2 linked regions of the Homo sapiens genome follow. The protein of the gene in region 1 purifies or fractionates together with the protein of each later gene. This does not show direct contact. Each region holds a gene or a part of one and is shown on either strand. Other genes may lie near its edges.

Evidence for each region. The genes of interacting proteins can lie anywhere in the genome.
Region 2: the proteins of PDP2 (region 1) and UBR2 purify together in Homo sapiens (affinity purification with mass spectrometry; 2 studies listed by BioGRID and IntAct, with this or other methods). This does not show direct contact.

Annotation. Positions count from the first base shown.
Region 1 is NC_000016.10:66,875,811-66,883,514, forward strand, and holds the start of PDP2 ([Pyruvate dehydrogenase [acetyl-transferring]]-phosphatase 2, mitochondrial precursor), read left to right. Parts: upstream 1-4,704; 5' UTR 4,705-4,830; exon of another isoform or gene 4,831-4,971; intron 4,972-7,204; exon of another isoform or gene 7,205-7,292; intron 7,293-7,704. UniProt on the Homo sapiens protein: Mitochondrial enzyme that catalyzes the dephosphorylation and concomitant reactivation of the alpha subunit of the E1 component of the pyruvate dehydrogenase complex (PDC), thereby stimulating the conversion of pyruvate into acetyl-CoA.
Region 2 is NC_000006.12:42,567,019-42,574,041, reverse strand, and holds part of UBR2 (E3 ubiquitin-protein ligase UBR2), read right to left. Parts: intron 309-7,023; coding exon 49-308; intron 1-48. UniProt on the Homo sapiens protein: E3 ubiquitin-protein ligase which is a component of the N-end rule pathway.

The sequences.
Region 1 (7,704 bases):
CAGGAGTTCGAGACCAGCCTGGGCAATGTGGTGAAACCCCGTCTCTACTAAAAATACAAACAAACAAACAAAAAAATTAGCCAGGCGTGGCAGCGTGTGCCTGTAGTCCCAGATACTTGGGAGGCTGAGGCAGGAGAATTGCTTGAACCCAGGAGGCAGAGGTTGCAGTGAGCCAAGATTGTGCCACTGCACTCCAGCCTAGGCAGCAGAGCAAGACTCTGTCTCAAAAAAAGAATAAATAAATAAAAAATAAAATAAAAATAGTTTTGCTTTTCCCCCCCTCATTATACAAGTTATGCTAGATGGAGTAATGTATATTTACTGTAAAAAATTTGTAATGTTCACCTTTGTCTCTTTAGGATAAATTGAAATAAGTAGAATTAGTGGATCAAAGGTATGCCCATTGAGTAGCCTCCATGTATGCTCTGTATTAGTCAGTTTTCACACTGCTATGAAGAATACCTGAGACTGCATAATTTATAAAGGAAAGAGGTTTAATTGACTCACATTTCCGCATGGCTGGGGAGGCCTCAGGAAACTTACAATCATGGCAGAAGACAAAGGGGAAGCAAGACACGTTTTAAATGGCGGCAGGCAAGCAAGAGCACAGGGGAAACTGTCTGTTATAAACAATCAGATCTCCACGAGGTCAGGAGATCCAGACCATCCTGGCTAACACAGTGAAATCCTGTTTCTACTAAAAATACAAAAAATTAGCCGAGAATGGTAGCGGGCACCTGTAGTCCCAGCTACTTGGGAGGCTTGGGCAGGAGAATGGCGTGAACCCGGGAGGCGGGGCTTGCAGTGAGCTGAGATCGCGCCACTGCACTCCAGCCTGGGCAACAGAGCGAGACTCTGTTAAAAAAAAAAAACAAAATCAGATCTCGTGGGAACTCACTCACTATTATGAGAACAGCATGAGGGAACAGCCCTTATGATCCAATCACCTCCCACCAGATCCCTCCCTTGACAAGTGGGAATTACAATTTGAAATGAGATTTGGGTGGGGACAAAGAGCCAAACCATATCACACTCCCTGCTAAGATGGCAATGCTCTCTTGCCAATGTTATGTATTTAAACCCTGTTTTAATATTTACCAGGTTGACTGACAAAAATTAATGGTTCATTTAATTAGCATTTCTTTTTCTTTTATTTATTATTATTATTAATATTACTTTGAGACAGGGTCTGGCTCTTTTGCCCAAGGTGGAGTGTAGTGGCACAATCTTGGCTCACTGCAACCTCTGCCTCCCAGGCTCAAGCCATCCTCCCATCCTCCCACCTCAGTCTCCTGAGTAGCTGGGACTACAGATGCATACCACCACGCCTAGCTAATTTTTGTTTTGTTTGTTTGTTTGTTTGTTTGTTTGAGACAGAGTCTCACTCTGTCACCCAGGCTGGAGTGCAACCTCTGCCTACCAGGTTCAAGCACTTCTCCTGCCTCAGCCTCCTGTAGCTGGGATTACAGACACAAACTACTACACCTGGCTAATTTTTTGTATTTTTATTAGAGACAGGGTTTCACTATGTTGGCCAGGCTGGTCTCAAACTCCCGACCTCAAGTGATCTGCCCACCTTGGCCTCCCAAAGTGCTGGGATTACAGGCGTGAGCCACCGCCCCCAGCCTAATTTTTGTATTTTTTGTAGAGATGGGGGGGTTTCACCATGTTGCCCAGGCTGGTCTCGAACTCCTGAGCTCAAGTGATCTACCTACCTCGGCCTCCCAAATTGTTGGGATTACAGGCATGAGCCACTGTGCCTGGCCATTTCTTTGGTTTTGAGTGAGGCTGAATATTTTTACATCTTTTCTCTAAAAATGCCAATTGAACAGCTGGGCACAGTGGCTCACGCCTGTAATCCCAGCACTTTGGGAGGCCAAGGCAGGCAGATCACAAGGTCAGGAGTTTGAGACCAACCTGGCCAACATAGTGAAACCCCCTCTCTACTAAAAATACAGAAATTAGCCGGGTATGATGGCACATGCCTGTGGTCCCAGCTACTTGAGAGGCTGAGCCGGGAGAATCGCTTGAACCCGGGAGGCGGAGGTTGCAGTGAGCCGAGACCACACCATTGCCCTCCAGACTGGGTGACAGAGTGAGACTCCATATCAAAACAAAAACAAAAACAAAAACAAAAAAAACCTGCCAATCGAGCTATGCTTTCCCTTTCTCGAAGGAGAGAGAAGTAATCCTTTTCCATCGTATTTGCTTATAAGACCTTGGGACAAGGAAGCCTTGAGAGATCCGGTGAGGGACTTCGGCTGGCCATCCTATATAGGGTGACTGAACTGGTTATAGCCTTGAAATGAAAGTTCCAATGCACATAAAATCCTCCAGGGTGCATTTTTACTTTGGAAGTGGGTGTGTGTGGTAACTTAGAAAAACTCAGTGGTTTCAGGCTTGGTGGAATGATGTAATTTTTCTCAGGAAAGTGGCGGGGGCCGCCATCTGTGTGTCTCAGCAGTCAGCCCAGGGCCTGACACATTGTGGGCACCCATAACACCTGCAGATTGAATAATTAAACACTGCTGCCTCTGTCCGGAAGGGTAACCCGTTGTGACCCTATATGACCTGTCTGCTGGGGGGAGGGAAGAAGTGTGCTTTTGCATTCTCTTGCACTCATTTATTAGAAACCCTTAGACTTTTTTTTAGTTTGGGTCTGAAACAGTCCTCTTAATATGCAGGAAGAGAGATATTGCCAGTCCTGACTTTGAACTTCTGGAAAGGGCTAAGGGTGAGTGGAACTATAAATATACAAGGGCAAGTCTGACATGAGCAGTTTTATTGTGACCACGTCCTTGGGTCCAGGAGGCTGGCCAGGCTGCCCAGGTAAGCCAGGGTGTCTTCCTTCTGGAAAACCACACTCTCAGGGCTCCAAGTGGCTTTTTCTGGTTGTCTCCCATTTTTCTCTGTCTCCAGGGAAGGACTCCATCTGACTTACCATAGTTACAAGAGTTCTGTGAAAATAATTTATAAGGAAGCAGGTCATCACTGGAATGCCACAATGTTAGGACCAGAAGGGACGGAGGGATTATCTGGTGTCGGGGTTCGCTGTCTCTCTCAACCTACCAGCCGCCAGCCGTGCTGAGTTAATTGTCAGTAGCAGGCCAATATAATGGTCAGTTCAAAGCTTAATGGTTTGTGGGAAACCACTAAAGACTTTAGGGCAGGAGGCCGGGCGCGGTGGCTCACGCCTGTAATCCCAGCACTTTGGGAGGCGGAGGCGGGCGGATCACGAGGTCAGGAGATCGAGACCATCCCGGCTAAAACGGTGAAACCCCGTCTCTACTAAAAATACAAAAAATTAGCCGGGCGTAGTGGCGGGCGCCTGTAGTCCCAGCTACTTGGGAGGCTGAGGCAGGGGAATGGCGTGAACCCGGGAGGCGGAGCTTGCAGTGAGCCGAGATCCCGCCACTGCACTCCAGCCTGGGCGACAGAGCGAGACTCCGTCTCAAAAAAAAAAAAAAAAAAAAAAAAAAAAGACTTTAGGGCAGGAATTTGAGGGTTTTTTTGGTTTGTTTTTGTTTCTGTTTTTGTTTTTTTTGAGACAGACTCTCACTCTGTCTCCCAGGCTGGCGTGCAGTGGCATGATCTCACCTCAGTGCAACTTCCACCTCCCTGGTTCAAATGATTCTCATGCCTCAGCCTCCCAGGTAGCTGGGACTACAGGCGCGCACCACCACTCCCAGCTAATTTTTGTATTTTTAGTAGAGACGGTTTCGTGATGTTGGCCAGGCTGGTCTCAAACTCCTGACCTCAGGAGATCCCCCCGCCTCGGCCTCCCAAAGTGCTGGGATTACAGGCAGGAGCCACCGCACTCGGCCTTGGAATTTGAGTTTTAGAAGTGTCATTCTGCCAGGCGTGATGGCTCACGTCTGTAATCCCAGCACTTTGGGGAGGCTGAGGTGGGAGGATTGCTTGAGCCCGGCAGTTTGAGACCAGCCTGGGCAACATAGAAAGACCTTGTCTCTACCCACCAACCACGAGAAAAGGTGGGAGGGGCGTCATTCTGGCTGCTCTGCTCTGTGGTTAGGACCAAGTCAAAGGTGGAGGAGGGAAAACCGTAAAATCAAGTGAGAGGCTTGGAATAGGGTGGCTGCGTCGCCGGATGGATGAGTGGAGAGAGATTTAGGAGATAGGATTTACAGCATTAGATAACTGGAAAGAGAGGGTGAGGGAGAGGAAGGAGTCAAGATGCCTCCCAGGGTTTTGGCTTGGGTCTCTGGGCAGATGGTGGGGCCATTACTGGGTTAGGAGAGAAGAGAAAAAGCAAGTTTGGCAGAAAGCTGAGTTTGGGGTAAGTTATGTTTGAGGCGCCTGGGGGCCTCCAGAGGCAGGTGTCCAGGTGGCTGGACATCAGGGTGTGGCGCTCAAGAGAGGGTTCTGGAGTGGTCGACACCGAAGTGGAGAGGAAGCAGTGAGGTGTTCTAACAACGGTGAGGAATTGGGGAGGCCGCTGGGTTCGGGGTATGCAGAGTGTAGCGGCCACGTAGCTGGCGATCTCAGGCACGTGACTGCCTGGTCCTGTGGCCCCGCGCTCGAACACTTTCAGCACCCAGGCAGGGGGTAAGGGGCGGTGTTGCCCCCTCCCGGGTCCCGCCTTTCTGCCCGCCTCTCATCCTCTTTAGCCATTGGGCAATACCTCTGTCCATCAAGGGCCCGCCTCCGCAATTGAGCCAACCAGGGCTGGCGGGAGGGCGCTTCCTTCTGGAGCTGGGTCCTGACTAGGGACCGCCTGGGTGAGGTGAGGACCTGGTGGCCGCAGTTGTGGCACTGTGCGCAGGCGCTGAACTGACCGGACGGAGCGGGCGGCTGTGGCCTCGCCAGCTGGTGAGAAGCGGGCGAGGGTCCGAGGTAGGGAAGGTAACGAGCGGGGGATGTGGACACCTCTTTCCCCGCCAGGCCTCGCCGGCGCCTGACCCTCCCGGCCTGCGGCACCGGCTCAGGTGACTGGGCGGAGGGAGAGCTGAGGTGAGGGGGCGGGTCCGCGGCGGAGAGGGACCAGCTGGGCCTACGACCACGGTCACCCCACTCACGTGCGCGCGCCACGTGGGCCCGCGGGCTCGCCGAGGACCCTTGGCTGCCTACCGGGGCACCCCACTAGCTGCTCTGGCCTATCGAGCACCCCTTGGAGCTCTGTGTCCCGACTGCACGCCCCTGTTTTACAGGCTGGCAAGCCGGGGCTCAGAGGCACCAAGCGGGTCGCCCGGGGGCACCCAGCTGGGGTACGGCCGTGCCGGGGTTCTAGGGAGATCGGTTTTGGTGGGCTCCGGAGTCCATGCACTTAGCGATGAGGCTGAAGTCAGAGATTTGAACTTGGGACCTGTCTGTTTTCTTTAAGGATGCAAGAGGGTTTGCGTCCTGGCTGCGGTGTATCACCCTGCACCGCTGCCTGCCTTGACTGCAGGGCCGGAGCGTCAGGCGCCCTCTGCTCCCGGACAGACCGCCCCCGCACCGACTTCTGCGGGGTGGGCTGGCAGGGGGTGGGGGAGTGAAGGGACGGTCCTCAGTCCTGGGAACTCTTGAGGTCCCGACAAATGATCTCGAGATCCCGAGGGCAGGATTCATACATGAAAAGCTCATTATAATGGGTCAAGGTTTTGTTCTGTTTTTTTTTTTTTAATTTAATTTAATTTAATTTAATTTAATTTAATTTATTATATTCCAAGGAAAAGTACCACCAGGGCTAGTGAAGGGACTAGGAAACTCGTCACCCCCTTGAGGAGGCAGATGTGAAGCTTTTGGAAATCAGTTTGGCAATGAGTCTACACCCTTGGACCTACTGACTCCTTGTTTGGGAAATAACTAGGATAAAACCTAAGTAGAGAAAAGGTTACTGCATAAAGCAGTACAGTTTGGTGGGGTTTTGTTGTTGTTGTTGTTTTTAAAGAGACAGATCTGGCTCTGTCGCCCAGGCTGGAGTGCAGTGGTGTGATCATAGCTCACTGCAGTCTTGAAATCTTGGGCTCAAGCGATCCTCCCACCTCAGCCTCTTGAGTAGCTGGGACTACAGGCACTTACCACCATGCCCAGCTAATCTAAAAATTTTTGTAGAGATGGGGCACTTGCTGTATCACCCAGGGTGGTCTTAAACTCCCTAGCCTCAAGTGATCCTCTTGCCTTGGCCTCCCAAAATGCTGAGATTATAGGCATGAGCCACTGTGCCCAGTCCAGTTTGGTATTTTATATTAATAAATAGCAAGTAGTAGAAACAACCTCTAAATTTCCAGCCGTAAAGAATAGTTAAGTAAGTTGTGATTATTTATGTCAAAATGTAGCCATCAGATGTGAAAAAATACTCTTATCAGGAAAGCCAGATTCAAAGTTGGGGTTACAACTCTACAAAAATACGTACAGAATGACTGTGCGCAGTAGCTCCCACCTGTAATCTCAGCACTTTGGGAGGCCAAGGGCGGAAGATCGCTTGAGCCTAGGAGTTTGAGACCAGCCTGGAAAACACGGGGAGACCCTGTCTATTAGCTGGGCCTGGCGGCACATGCCTGTAGTCCCAGCTATGTAGGAGGCTGAGGCAGGAGGATCCCTTGAGGCCAGAAGGGCAAGGCTGCAGTGAGCCACGATCTTACCATTGCACTCTAGCCTGGGGACAGAGCCAGGCTCCATCTCAAAAACAAAACAAAACAAAAAAAAACCAAACAAAAAATACCCAGAATGACTTAGAGGGGTATATACCTAATGATGAAAATAATAGCTACTTTTTTTTTTTTAGCAGAAGCGTCATATTTTATTAAATTCTCACAAAACCTTCTAAGACTAATATTCCCATTCCACCAATAGATAACTGGAGTGTTACCTCATCAGCAGTGTGTCTGATGCTACACAAGATAGTATCACAGCTAGTGTGCTATTGGGCCTCTGAAAATGTCATATTTAGCCAGTATTTGAGGACTTAGTGTGTGCCGGGTACAGGGCCAGGCACTGGAAAGCTGTTGGTGAGTAAGGCAGCCATAGTTGCTTGAGTCATGGAGTTTATAGACTAGTGGGGAAATATACATGTATATAAAATTTAGTTTTTGAGACAGGGTCTTGCTCTGTTGCCCAGGCTGGAGTGCAGTGGCAGGAGCACAGCTCATTGCAGTCTTGACCTCCAGGGCTTAAGCAATCCTCTCACCTCAGCCTTACAAGTGAATGGGGCTATAGGTGTGCGCCACCATGCCCAACTAATTTGTAAAAAAATTTTTTGTAGAAACCAGGTCTCCTTATGTTGCCCAGGCTGGTCTTGGAACTCCTAGGCTCAAGTGATCCTCCCGCCTCAGCCTTTGGAGTGGTTACAGGTATGAGCCACTATGCCCGAAGCAGATTATTTATTTATTTATTTATTTTTGAGACGGAGTTTCGCTCTCGCCCAGGCTGGAGTGCAGTGGTGCAATCTTGGCTCACTGCAAACTCTGCCTCCTGGGTTCACGCCATTCTCCTGCCTCAGCCTCCTGAGTAGCTGGGACTACAGGCGCCCATCACTGCACCCAGCTAAATTTTTGTATTTTTAGTAGAGACGGGGTTTCACTGTGTTAGCCAGGATGGTCTCGATCTCCTGAACTCGTGATCAGCCCACCTCGGCCTCCCAAAGTGCTGGGATTACAGGCGTGAGCCACCGCGTCAGGCCTGTTTTTGTTTTCTTTGAGACAGGGTCTCACTCCCTCTCTAGTGAGGCCCAGGCTAGACTGCAGTGGCACAATCACTGCTTTC
Region 2 (7,023 bases), on another chromosome or scaffold:
GGTCAAATAAAACAAGAGCCTCCTAGAAAGAAAATTAAAATATTTTACCTGCAAGAATATGTAGGCTCTCCTACTTTAAAAACACGACCACAAAGATGAGAAGGTTTGTTTGCTTGCTCAAGTTTTGGAAATCCAAATGCAGGATCTTCACCACAAAGGTACCATTCCATTGGTCCCAACAAAACATGCTGTGCCAGCATGTCTTCTTTCTGTGGAAAAGGGTTGGGACCCCTGCAGTAGATTTTGGGTACATAGTGGGCTAAATGCTGGTACACTTCTCTAGTGAGGTCAGTTGCTTGCAGCCATTTCTTTAAAAGAAGAAAAGAGAAGAAATGGTTTTAAACACCAACAAACTAATTTGAACAAATTCACCCTACTTTCTTTTAGGTACAAAAATAATGACAAAAGCATATTAAAATATTTTGTTTACAACACTCACCACCGTACGTTAGAAATTTAATCTATTAAAATGCCAAGTATGTTTAAATCCTACTTTTAAGTGTAAGTAAAATTAAAATGAAACAAGCCTCCCTCCTTCCCTGCAAAATGACTCTTGAAGCAATCTTCTCTAGGCAGTACCAGAAAATAATTACAAGAAATCATTATATAAGATATGAACCATTGAGCTCACCTAATGTCCTTCCTAATGCTTTGCTCAAATGTTATTCTCATTGTGATATCAATTCTCACGTCAGTTTGTCCATAGGAAGAGTGTACGGTGAATATGAACAGCCAATATGTACGGTGAACATGAACAGCCAATACACATTTCTTAATGATTGATAAGCAAGTTTATATACCAGTCTCTTATTGAATAAGTCAGTCCACAAGAGACTGTTGTACCAATTATGCCTTCTTTCTCTGATCAACTTCTCTCTCTCTATAAGGCCTTTTCCGTTTGCTCTCCCCACTAAAAACAAATTTTAAAGCATGATTCTACTTAGATCTCATAGGTACCAACTCAATAACTGAATGCATGATCTCCCCTCCATGCTCCACCAAAATCTGTTATTTTCTCCATTTCCAGCTCAACCTGGGTATCCACACCGAAAAATCTGAAAAGCTTCCCAGCACTTTGGGAGGCCAGGCCAAGCAGATCACCTGAGGTCAGGAGTTCAAGACCAGCCTGGCCAACATGGTGAAGTCTCTTCTCTACTAAAAATATAAAAATTAGCTGGATGTGGTGGCGCATGCCTGTAATCACAGTTACTCAAGAGGCTGAGGCAGGAGAAATCGCTTAAACCCAGGAGGCAGAGGTTGTAGTGAGCCAAGATCCAGCCTGGGCGACAGAGCAAGAGTCTGTCTCAAAGGACAAAAAAAAAAAAAGACTCACTTCTGCTAGAATGCAGTTAACTGAACCGTGAACAAAACCCACAGATGGAGGGAAAGAGGAAGGGGAAGTGAGTTGAAAAACTACCTATTGGGTACTATGCTCACTACCCAGGTGCAATATACTCATGTAACAAACCTGCACATGTATTCCTTAAATCTAAAGTAAAAGCTGAAATTAAAAAAAACCTCCAATGTTTACCTATGGATTACTACCTAATTCCAGTTACATTTTTATTTAAAAAAAAAAAAAAAGTATGTTCAAGTGATATGTAACATCATAAGAAGTCAACATAAGGTCTTCATTTTAGCTATTACTTGTATATTCTTCAGACCACTCCTTCTAAAAACAACATACAGAGAGATTTTAAATATGCATGAGGTGATGTATATTAACTTTCTAGTCAATTTCTGTTTTCAGAGAACTTTTACTAAAAATGTAAAAATTTTGTTCATAAGTTAAGGGACTGGATAGAAGCTTATAACCAAAAACGGTGAAAGAGTTTTCATGCTTAAAGTGAAACTAAACTATTTTCCAAATATTACTAACATTGTTGTGTTTACATTATGCAAGTAGGAAAGAGACTAAATTACTTTCAAAACAACAGCATTTCTTCCCTGGTGGCCAAGTGGTTAGGGAAAAAAAAATAAAAATAAAAATAAAACAGCAGCAGCAGCATCATTTCTTAGGAGACAATCCTACAGGCTTTAAGTATTCTCTCCCTTCAGAGTGACTCAATCAAAATTTTATATATACATACACATCCTTTAAGCTCAGTAATTATAAAGAGGACAAGTTTTAAAAAAAGAAAAAGAGTCCTCAACAAGCATACTAGAATCTTATTCTTTGAGCTAAAAGACCTCGTTTTGGCCTCATTCAAAGGTAAATGTCTCATTTTTCACCCATTGTCAGCAAACCAAAACAAGAATGAAGGTAGTCAAATGATCCTAAGCGCTTTTTTTTTTTTTTTTTTTTGAGTCTCGTGCTGTCGCCCAGGCTGGAGTGCAGTGGTACGATCTCGGCTCACTGCAACCTCTGCCTCCCAGGTTCAAGTGATTCTCCTGCCTCAGCCTCCTGAGTAGCTGGGGTTACAGGTGTGCACCACCACACGCGGCTAATTTTTGTATTTTTAGTAGAGACAAGGTTTCACTATGTTGACCAGGCTTGTCTCAAACTCCTGACATCAGGTGATCTGCCCACCTCGGCCTCCCAAAGGTGCTAGGATTCAATTTACTCTTTATGAAAGAAAAATTAAGCAATAAGACCAAAATAATTCACCTCCATGATCCTAGAAAGTTAAGTGCTTCGGACTTTTTTTTACAACATATTGAAAGATTTTATTTAAAAACCAGTTTTTTTCCTTATATTTTATGTTCCCATTCCTGTAAAACTTCACTGTTGCAAAATTTTAATACAAGAATGAAAGGTTACTTTAGAAGGGATGCTTTTTTTTTTTTTTTTTTTTTTTTGAGACGGAGTCTTGCTCTGTCACCCAGGCTGGAGTGCAGTGGCGCGATCTCGGCTCACTGAAAGCTCCGCCTCCCAGGTTCACGCCATTCTCCTGCCTCAGCCTCCCAAGTAGCTGGGACTACAGGCTAGCATGGATGCTTTCTAAAAAAAAATTATGCAGTCTAGTAACTGTAACGAGAGCAAATTTGTTCATAGATTTCTTCAACAAAAATTCAGACGCTAGTATCAGCTTCTGGTTAAGAAAAAAAAAAAAAATCGGCCAGGCTCTTTGGCTCATGCCTGTAATCCCAGCACTTGGGAGGCCAAGGCGGGTGGCTCATTTGAGTTCAGAGGTTCGAGTCTAGCTTGGGCAATATGGCAAAACCCTGTCTCTTCTAAAAATAAAAGAAGATTAGCTGGGCATGGTGGTGCATGCCTGTAGTCCCAGCTACTCAGGAGGCTGAGGTGGGAGGATCACCTGAGCCCCGGAGGTTGAGGCTTCAGTGAGGCATGATCACGCCACTGCACTTCAGCCTGGGTGACAGAGTGAGATCCTGTCTCAAAAAACAAACAAACAACAAAAAAAAAACTAGCCACTTTACATAAAAATATTATTAGTAAAACAAGCAAGTATTTCACTCTTTATTACATATTATTATAAATAACAAGACTTAAAAGTCTGGTCCAAGAAAGGCATGCATATGCTCCCCATTTTTCAAATCTTTACTACTCCTGGGCACAGTGGCTCACGCCTATAATCCCAGCACTTTGGGAGGCCAAGGTGGGCAGATCACTTGAGGCCAGGAGTTCGAGACCACCATGGCCAACATGGTGAAACCCCATCTCTACTAAAAATACAAAAATTAGCCAGGAGTGGTGGTGCACGCCTGTAATCCCAGCTACTTGGGAGGCTGAGGCAAAAGAATCGCTTGACCTCAGGAGGTGGAGGTTGCAGTGAGCCTAGATCACGCCACTGTACTCCAGCCTGGAGGACAGAGTGAGACTCCGTCTCAAAACCAAAAACTTTACTACCATTATATGAAAAAATCACAATCACCTAAAAGATTTGGGCTCTATTACAGGCACTTTAAGCTGATTAAACATACATACTTAATATAAAAAGCAAGAAAAATTTATGACTGTCTTTCAGAAGTAGCTCACACATTTCCCCAAAGAATAAAATCTATAGCTTTTCATATTAGTTCTAACATATGCTAACTGCAACTGTTTCTTCAACATGAAAAATTAAGATTTCCAGTTTGGTTGGCCTTTTGTCTTTATTTCAGACACTTGTAGCTGTCACACCCATGTGGCATAAGAGAGTAATAAGCATTCACTATCTTACTACAAGTCCCTCTTAAGGGAAGTAAAGAAACTGTCAACTCATTCCTCTAAAGTAAACATGTTATGACAATGTTTCCAGGAGCTTTCCCTCTATTAAATACTAAATTTAAGCCTTGGGATAGAAAGCAAGTACAATAAAATAAAAATGAAATGAAAAATGAAAGAATCCCTAGAGGTTAGTTAGCCTTTTATTACAGTCTCTATTATTCTATACCCAATTAAAATTGTATCCTTTAACTACTTTTGGTTTTGCTTTCAAACAAGGATAAGCAACATGTAAGTTAATCATAAAACAACTAGTGCTCATAACCATAAAAACAATAGTGTTTAAGTGGGAGTTTTAGGGAATATATTGAGAAAAATTTTAAACAAATTATATTAAGAGCTCTACAAATTAAGGAGAATATTTACAAATAAAATATAGAAATTTAATAGGTCAAAAGACTAATTGAAAATAGGCAAAGAAGACATAAAAATGGCCAATAAGCTCATAAAAAGATGTTCCAACATGACTCATGAGGGAAATGCAAATCAAAACCACAATGAGAAGGCATAACACCCAAAAGAATGGCTGTAATCAAAACACAGGCAAAAACAAGTGTTGGCAAGGATCTGGAGAAATTGGAACTCTCATGCACTACTGGTGGGAATGTAAAACAATGCAACTGCTTTGGAAAAATCTGGCAGTTCTTCAAAATAGTTAACATATGACCCACCAATTTCACTTCTAGGTATGTATATACCCAAGAGAAACAAAAGCATATGTCCCCACAAAAATTTGTAAAAAATGTTCACAGCAACATGATTCATAATACCCAAAAAGTAGAAACAACCCAAATATTCACCAACTGATGAACAGATAAATAATATATGGTTTATCTATACAAAGGAATGTCATTTGGCAATAAAAAAGAAAGAATTACTGACACAGGTTGAGCATCCCTAATTTGAAAACGTGAAATCCAAAATGATCCAAAATCTGAAACTTTGCATGCCCACACGATGCTCAAAGAAGTGCTCATTGGAACATTTGGATTTTGGATTAAGGATGCTCAACTGGTATAACTGCAAATATTTTAAAATCCAAAAAAATCCAAAATCCAAAACACTTCTGGTGGCAAGCGTAACAATACTCAACCTGTACATGGTACAACATGGATAAATATTTTATTTTTATTATTTTTTTTTTGAGACAGAGTCTCGCTCTGTTGCCCAGGCTGGAGTGCAGTGGCGCGATCTTGACTCACTGCAAGCTCCGCCTCCCGGGTTCATGCCATTCTCCTGCCTCAGCCTCCCAAGTAGCTGGGACCACAGGCGCCTGCCACCACGCCCGGCTAATTTTTTGTATTTTTTAGTAGAGACGGAGTTTCACCGTGTTAGCCAGGATGGTCTCGATCTCCTGACCTTGTGATCTACCTGCCTTGGCCTCCCAAAGTGCTGGAATTACAGGTGTGAGCCACCGCGCCTGGCCCAACATGGATAAATATTTAAAACATTATCTAAGAGAAAGAAGTCAGCCACAAATGACAATATGTTGAATTCCATTTATACGAAATATCCAGAATAGGCAAATCTACACAGACAAAAATTAGTAGTTGATTAGACCTCAGGAGTTTAGGTGTGAAAGGGAAGTGACTGCCAATAGGTACAGGATTTCTTTTTTGGGGTGATAAAAATGTCCCAAAATTGATCATAGTGATGATTGCATGAATCTGAATATACTAAAAACCACTGAATTTAACTGTACAGTATGTGAGTTATATCTCAATAAAACGGTTTAAAAAATGTACAGCAAAAAGATAACCAATACAGACCTAAAACTCTACATAAAACTTAACAAATTCATTATTTATTAAAACAAAATTTTTTTTGAAGACAGGGTCTCACTGTATCACCCAAGATGGAGTACAGTGGCATGATCATAGCTCACTGTAACTTCTAACACCTGGGCTCAAGCGATCCTCCCTGCTTAGCCTTCTGAGTAGCTAGGACTGCAAGTTCATGCCACCACACCCAGCTTATTTATTTTATTTTATTTTTTTTTAGTAGAGACAGGGTATAGCTAATGTTGCCCAGGCTGGTCTCAAACTCTTAGACTTAAGCAGTCCTCCCACCTCAGCCTCCCAAATAGCTGGGATTACTGGCATGAGCCAGTGCTCCCAACCTGTATTTCTTTTATATTCAGGGAAAAAGATGGGGTCCCGCTCTGTCACCCAGGCTGGAGTGCAGTGGCGCGATCTCGGCTCACTGCAACCCCAGCCTCCTGGGTTCAAGCAACTCTCCTGCCTCAGCCTCCCGAATAGCTGGGATTACAGGGGTGCACCACCATGCCCGGTTAATTTTTGTATTTTTAGTAGAGACAGGGTTTCACCATGTTGGCCAGGATGGTCTCTATCTCTTGACCTTGTGATCTGCCCTCCTTGGCCTCCCAAAGTGCTGGGATTACAGGCAAGAGCCACCACACCCGGCATGTTTACTTTTAAAACCGTAATCACTCACTGGAACATACTATAACCATATGTAGTATAGAAAGTAAACAGAGCCAAGAAGTGTTGGGAAAGTCATACTTATGGAGTCAATTCTAACAAGAAAAGAGAAGAATGAGAAGAGAGGGCCACTGTAATATCCTAAACTTACAAATATTAAAGAGTCAGCTTAGATACTTTTCTTTGTGAGGCATACTAGCTGGAATGGATGGGATCACAAAAAGTTCTTCCTCCTTATAACAGGAATAAGAAAAGCGGTGTGTAAATGAAATGTGGAAAGGTTGACACTAGTGCTCATTAGGTGATTTTTAAATGGAAGTGATCCTAACAAATTACCAATGACAGAGGTCTAAAGCCTACAATCACTGTTTTCTCTACTTGTTTCTCTTCCCTAAAATGTGCTTTCAACCTAAG